Homo sapiens: one gene and its partner. The protein of the gene in region 1 interacts with the protein of each later gene in a biochemical or structural test. Each region holds a gene or a part of one and is shown on either strand. Other genes may lie near its edges.

Evidence for each region. The genes of interacting proteins can lie anywhere in the genome.
Region 2: the proteins of HIF1A (region 1) and KPNA6 form a complex in vitro, tested with the Homo sapiens proteins (2 studies listed by BioGRID).

What each region holds. Positions count from the first base shown.
Region 1 is NC_000014.9:61,736,921-61,740,572, reverse strand, and holds part of HIF1A (hypoxia-inducible factor 1-alpha), read right to left. Parts: coding exon 3,464-3,652; intron 2,487-3,463; coding exon 2,200-2,486; intron 69-2,199; coding exon 1-68.
Region 2 is NC_000001.11:32,163,436-32,167,087, forward strand, and holds part of KPNA6 (importin subunit alpha-7), read left to right. Parts: intron 1-2,669; coding exon 2,670-2,795; intron 2,796-3,652. UniProt on the Homo sapiens protein: Functions in nuclear protein import as an adapter protein for nuclear receptor KPNB1. Binds specifically and directly to substrates containing either a simple or bipartite NLS motif.

The DNA of each region.
Region 1 (3,652 bases):
AATTCCAACTTGAATTCATTGACCATATCACTATCCACATAAAAACAATATTCACTGGGACTATTAGGCTGTAAAAAGAAATATGTTTACTATTTCCTGAAGAAGCTTCCATATACTTTGCTAGTTGTCAGAATTTTCAAACTAGATCTCAGAAAAACCAGAAAACACACAACCAAGTCCATCGTGTTTATCAAATTTTATTTAACTAGGCCGGGCTCAGTGGCTCACGCCTGTAATCCCAGCACTTTGGGAAGCCAAGGTGGAGGGATAATGAGGTCAAGAGATCGAGACCATCCTGGCCAACATGGTGAAACCTCGTCTCTACTAAAAATACAAAAATTAGCTAGGCATGGTGGCAAACGCCTGTAATCCCAGCTACTCAGGAGGCTGAGGCAGGAGAATCACTTGAACCTGGGAGGCAGAGGTTGCAGTGAGCCAAGATCATGCCACTGCACTCCAGCCTGGCGACAGAGTGAGACTCCATGTCAAAAAAAAAAAAAAAAAAAAAAATTTGTGAAAATAGTGACATTTTGAAGCTTATACTGGTAACTAATTTTGCCAATATATATATTTCTGACTATGTAATATAACATCATTTACAAAATTGAGATGAAAAGAAACACCTTATTCTAAAGAATAAAACCTATTTGGTAATTCACATCCCACAATGGTACCTAATTGACCAATTAACTAGATGCTACATTCACTGGAATTTACCTTTGAACTGAGAAGGCACACTCCTGTGGTGACTGAGCTACCTAAAAATCTCACTGTTACTGTCGGGGGTGGGAGTAGAAACCTAAGTTATTTTACCTGCATATACCTGAACGAATGTACATTATTACTATTTTAAGAGTTCTGGGCAAGAAGTTTAACAAAAAACTATAGCTGTGTATTCTAAACAAGAAATTTTGCTTTCCTCATTCTAACGTTTTTGTTAGATTTACTTTTGTTAGATAAAAACCAAGATGAATCAAACATTTTTTTTTCTGGGTAAATTAAGCAACCAGAGCATAGGATATATATTCATTCAACACAAGGCTGTGAGATGTCAAATCCCCTACTCTTAGCTTGTCAGTTTTATTCAACAAATACCTAATGTAGAATTATTTACCACTTATTAAAGCTTATTTATGCCTCATTTATCAAGTTATAATGTTCAGATCTAAGTTGCCCTACTCCTGAGCATATTTTTAGATGTAGGAAGCCCTAAAATGGAATCATTCTAGATTTAGAAATAGAGCCCTGTGTGATATCTCTAAGTCTTGGCCAGCCTAGCCTTTAAAGATTATTTTTGTGTTCATAGGACAATTAATATCAAGACAGATCCAGAATAAAAAAGACCAGTTACTAAGTATTTATTTTATGTAACACTTGTTATTTTCATATTATACTTACCCAAAATTTCAAAATAGTGATGGAAATTAGACTAAATTGGGCAAAGAATTTATAAGGTCCTTTCCCATTTAAACCCTCGTAAGTCTATTGCTACCAGACAGTTCTCCAACTCAAAGGGGTAATGGGCCAGGCATGGTAGCTCACGCCTGTAATCCTAGTACTTTGGGAGGCCAAGGCAGGAGGATCGCTTGAGCCCAGGAGTTTAAAACCAGCCTGAGCAACATAGTGAGAACCCCAACTCCACACACACACACAAAAAAAGGTTAAAAAATTAGCCAGGCATGGTGATGCAGGCCTGTAGTCCCAGCTACTTGGGAGGCTGAGGTGGGAGAATCATTTGAGCCTGGGAGGTTGAGGCTGTGATTGCACCACTGCACTCCAGCCTGGGTGATAGTGAGACTCTTTCTCAAAACAAAACAAAACACAATAAAACAAACTAAAAGGGGTAACAGGTATAGGCTGTAGCTACCTTGAGCACACTTAGTACTATTCTCTTTAAATGTCCAAATTCAAGATGTTTTTGTCCTACTGATATAAATAATAGAGAAACAATGTACGTTTCACCTTTTGGTTTATATTAAGCTAGTTTCTTCCCATGTTCCTGACTATCTTTGAGCCTAAAACATGTGCTCAGGTCTAGGTTAGGCAGTAGCTCTTGCAATAATTTTAAAGTGCTAAAATTCAAACACACACACAAATGTAATTTGTGGTTCAAATAAGTGTTTGAATCAAACTTATAAATACATTCTTGAATGTTAAAATCTGAAAGTTGTCCCTTTCTGATTATATCATGACACCTACCTCAGGTGAACTTTGTCTAGTGCTTCCATCGGAAGGACTAGGTGTCTGATCCTGAATCTGGGGCATGGTAAAAGAAAGTTCCAGTGACTCTGGATTTGGTTCTAATTTTAATGCAACTTCTTGATTGAGTGCAGGGTCAGCACTACTTCGAAGTGGCTTTGGCGTTTCAGCGGTGGGTAATGGAGACATTGCCAAATTTATATTCTGTAATTTTTCGTTGGGTGAGGGGAGCATTACATCATTATATAATGGTACTTCCTCAAGTTGCTGGTCATCAGTTTCTGTGTCTGTGGGGAAAAAATATGAGTCAATCTAAAGTATAGAAGGATTTTTTTTTTTTTTTACCCAAGACAGAGTCTTGCTCTGTTGCCCAGGCTGGAGTGCAATGGCGCAATCTTGGCTCACTGCAACCTCTGCCTCCCAGGTTCAAGCAATTCCCCTGCCTCAGCCTCCCAAGTAGCTGGGATTACAGGCGCACACCACCACGCCCAGCTAACTTTTGTATTTTTGGTAGAGACGGGGTTTCACCATGGTGGCCAGGCTGGTCTCGAACTCCTAACCTCAAGTGATCCACCCGCCTCGGCCTCCCAAAGTGCTGGGATTACAGGCGTGAGCCACTGCGCCCGGCCACAAGGATTTTCACATATAAAAAATTTATGTTCTTTTTCACAAAAGGTTTGTCTAATTCATCAAACAACAAAATGTCACCAAATTTTCCTTCATCAGAAAGTTTACATACAATAGTATAGTATAACCATAAGTCTGAGTTACCTTTACAATCCACTATTGATACCGCGTCTTAATCTCTATGGCATAAAAGACAAAAGGCAATACCAACCTTTTTATACATTAAAATGTTCTCTACTTTAAAATTGCAGTTTTCATCTTCAATGCTTGATGTTATAGTATGACTACTTTTTTATCCTTTAATGCAACAATGCCTACTTCCATATAACTCTGCTAAACTGTGGAGAAAATCTGACAGCAGGATACAGAAATAGAGTAGCCAGGAAAAATTTATGTGGGAAGAAGAAATACCTTAAGGACACTTTGAAGCACAATTTCCAACAGTATAAAAAAGCAAGAATGGTAAGAAATTACGGGGGCAAAAATATTTAAGCAAATACATTTAAGAAAACTATAAACATATATTAGCTTGTAATGTCCAAATGATTACCAACAAAAACCGTAAAGTAATGTTTAGTTGAAATGGGGCTTGTAGCAACAGACACAATTTAGGGGATTAACAAAAATAACTACTCACCGTTGCTGCCAAAATCTAAAGATATGATTGTGTCTCCAGCGGCTGGGGCCAGCAAAGTTAAAGCATCAGGTTCCTTCTTAAGTTTGTCAAAGAGGCTACTTGTATCTTCTGATTCAACTTTGGTGAATAGCTGAGTCATTTTCATATCTGAAGATTCAACCGGTTTAAGGACACATTCTGTTTGTTGAA
Region 2 (3,652 bases), on another chromosome or scaffold:
GAAGTAAGTGTGGGCTTGAGTGAAAAGTTCCAGCTCTGTTATTCTCTAAACAGTCATGGGAAACTTGGTTCCTTCTTTTCTTACATAAATTGGGAACAAATCATCGTCTAATGGGTGAAGGAAAACTAAGTGGAATAACTGGACTTACCACCTGGGACATTGTGAGTTAGTTAAGTTTGAGTCATGGTCCCTTTGAGATACTGAAAGCTATGGAACTCCACCCCTGCTTCCTAGATCTTTAAGGTCTCATGGATATCATGGACCTTGGAATAATCTTTTGTAAATAACCCTTCTGGTGAAGGCATAGTAAACAAAGTTCCCCTGCTCAAAGGCTAGAGATTTGGGTATTCTTTGGGTTTTGAGTAGCGAGCATAATTCTGTGGGATTCTGGACAGGTTTCTTAACAGGTGAGTAGTGTCACTCAAACACTCAAACCCACATGCTCATTTTCTGGGTTACTTTGTATATGTATATGCATGTACTTTAAAATACAACATAAAATTTACCATTTTAACCATTGGCATAAAGTACATTCACATTGTTTTTCCGTTATTGCCACTAGCCAGCTACAGAAATTTTTTATCATCTCAAACTGAAACCGTACACATTAAACAGTAACTCCCCATTCTCCCTTCCCCTAGTGCCTAGTAACCACCATTCTATTTTCTGTATCTGTGAGTTTGAGTGCTCTAAGTACCTCATGTAAGTGGAATCATACAGTGTTTATTCTTTCTCGTCTGGTTTATTTCACTTAGCCTAGTATCTTTAAAATTCGTTCATGTTGTAGCATGCATCAGAACTCCTTTGAAAGGCTGAATGATATTCCACTGTATGTATATACCATATTTTATTTATCCATCAATAGACATTTGGGTTGTTTCCACCTTTTGGCTATTGTGAATAATGCTGCTATGAACATTGGTGTACAAATATTTGTTCAAGTCCCCGGTATATACCCAGAGTGGAATTGCTGGATCATGTTCTAATTTTATGCCTAATTTTTTTGAGGGGACACCATACTGTTCTGCACAGCTGCTATGCCATCTTACATTCCCACCAACAATGCAGCATGTTCCAGTTTCCCCACAGCCTTGCCAACAGTTGTTATTTTCCGTTTTTTGTTTTTTGTTTTTTTTTTGATAATACCCACCCTAATGGGTGTGAAGTGATATTTCATTGTGGTTTTGATTTGCATTTTTCTAATGATTGGTAATGTTGAGCATCTTTTCATATGCTTATTGGCCATCTGTGTATTTTTTTTTTTTTTTTGGACACATGTCTATTCAAGTCTTTTGCTCATGTTTTAATTGGGTTGTTGAGTTTTCTGGTTGTTCAATTTTAGGAGTTCTTCATATGTTCTGGATATTAATCTCTTATCAGACACATGTTTTGCAAATATTTTCTCTTGTTCTGTGGTTTTATCTTTTAACTTTGGTGTCTTTAAAAAAAAAACTTTTAACTTATTTAATTTTTTAAAATTGAGACAGAGTCTGTCTTTGTCACCCAGGCTAGAGTGCAATGATGCCATCTCGGCTCACTGCAACCTCTGCCTCCTGAGCTCAAAGCAGTCCTTCCACCTCAGCCTCCCAAGTAGCTGGGACTACAGGCATGCACCATCATGCCTAGCTAATTTTTTGAATTTGTTTTTTTTTGGAGAGACAGGGTTTTACCATGTTGCCCAGGCTACTCTTGAACTACTGGGCTTAAGCAATCCTCCCACCTTGGCTTCTCAAAGTGCTGGGATTACAGGCATGAAGCCACCTCACCCAGACCAACTTTCTTTTCTTTTTTAATTTTTTTTAGAGGGTCTCACTATGTTGCCCCAGCTGGCCTTGAACTCCTGTGCTGAGGTGATCCTACTGCCTCAGCCTCCTGAGTAGCTGGGACTGCAGGTGCATACCACTGTGCCCAGCTTACTCCAATGTCTTGATGCACAACAGTTTTTCATTTTGATTAAGTCCAGTTTACCTGGGCCAGGTGCAGTGGCTCATGCCTGTAATTCCAGCACTTTGGGAGGCTGAGGCAGGAGGATCACTTGAGCCCAGAAGTTTGAGACCAGCCCTGCAACATGGGAAGACCCTGTCTCTACAAAAAAAAAAAATGTTTTTTAATTAGCAGAGTGCGGTGGCACCCTGCTACTCAGGAGTCCCCAGCTACTCAGGAGGCTGAAGTAGAAGGATTGCTTGAGACTGGGAGGTCAAGGCTGCAGTAAGCCATGATCATGCCACTGCACTCCAGCCTAGGCAACAAAGTGAGACCCTATTTAAAGAAAAAAAATGAAGCCGGGCACAGTGGCTCACACCTGTAATCCCAACACTTTGGGAGGCCGAGGCAGGCAGATCACCTGAGGTCAGGAGCATGAGACCAGCCTGGCCAACATGATGAAACCCCATCTCTACTAAAAATAGAAAAATTTTCCGGGCGTGGTGGTAGGCGTCTGTAATCCAAGCGTCTTGGGAGGCTGAGGCTGGAGAATCACTTGAACCTGGGAGGCGGAGGTTGCAGTGAGCCGAGATTGTGCCATTGCACTCCAGCCTGGGCGTCAGAGCGAGACTCTGTCTCAAAAAAAAAAACAAAAACAACAACAACAACAACAACAACAAAAAAACATAAAAAAAATTAAAAACAGTTTAATTTTTCTTTTGTTTCCTGTGCTTTTGGTGTTCTAGGTCATTCTTAACTGTTCAGCCCTACCTTGCCTTCTCCACTTGTTGAGCAGTCCCAAGGAGTCAATCCGGAAGGAAGCTTGCTGGACTATTTCAAATATTACTGCTGGCAACAGGGCTCAAATACAGGTAAAACAGGCAGGGAAGTCAAGGGGCATGGGAAGTCATAGGAACTTGGGAGGTTGTTGGAATATTTGCTTTCAGAAGAAAGAATTTGTTTCCCTTTAAAAATAGGAGTCAATTGGCCAGGCACGGTGGCTCACGCCTGTAGTCCCAGCACTTTGGGAGGCCGAGGTGGGCAGATCATGAGGTCAGGAGTTTGAGACCATCCTGGCCAACATGGTGAAACCCCATCTGTACTAAAAATACAAAAATTAGATGGGTGTGGTGGCGGACGCCTGTAATCTCAGCTATTCGGGAGGCTGAGGCAGGAGAATTGCTTGAACCCGAGAGGCAAAGGTTGCAGTGAGCTGAGATCACGCCACTGCACTCCAGCCTGGGCAACAGAGCGAGACTCCGTCTCAAAAAAAAAAAAAAAAAAAGAGGGGCTGGGCATGGTGGCTCATGCTTGTAATCCCAGCACTTTGGGAGGCTGAGGTGGGCGGATCACAAGGTCAGGAGATCAAGACCATCCTGGCTAACGTGGTGAAACCATGTCTCTTCTAAAAATACAAAAAAAAAGAAAAATTAGCCGGGCGTGGTGGCAGGCGCCTGTAGTCACAGCTAGTCGGGAGGCTGAGGCAGGAGAATGGCGTGAACCTGGTAGGTGGAGCTTGCAGTGAGCCGAGATCGCGCCACTGCACTCCAGCCTGGGTGACAGAGCAAGACTGTCTCAGAAAATAAATAAATAAATAAATAAATTGGAGTCAGTGTGTACTATTGGTCAAAGAAGCTGTGTAACCAAAACTGGGTTCTTCTGTAGTAGCCTGTCACCTATATAGGAAGAACAAAAGAAAACTCCCAGAATGGGGAAGATGTCTAAGTCT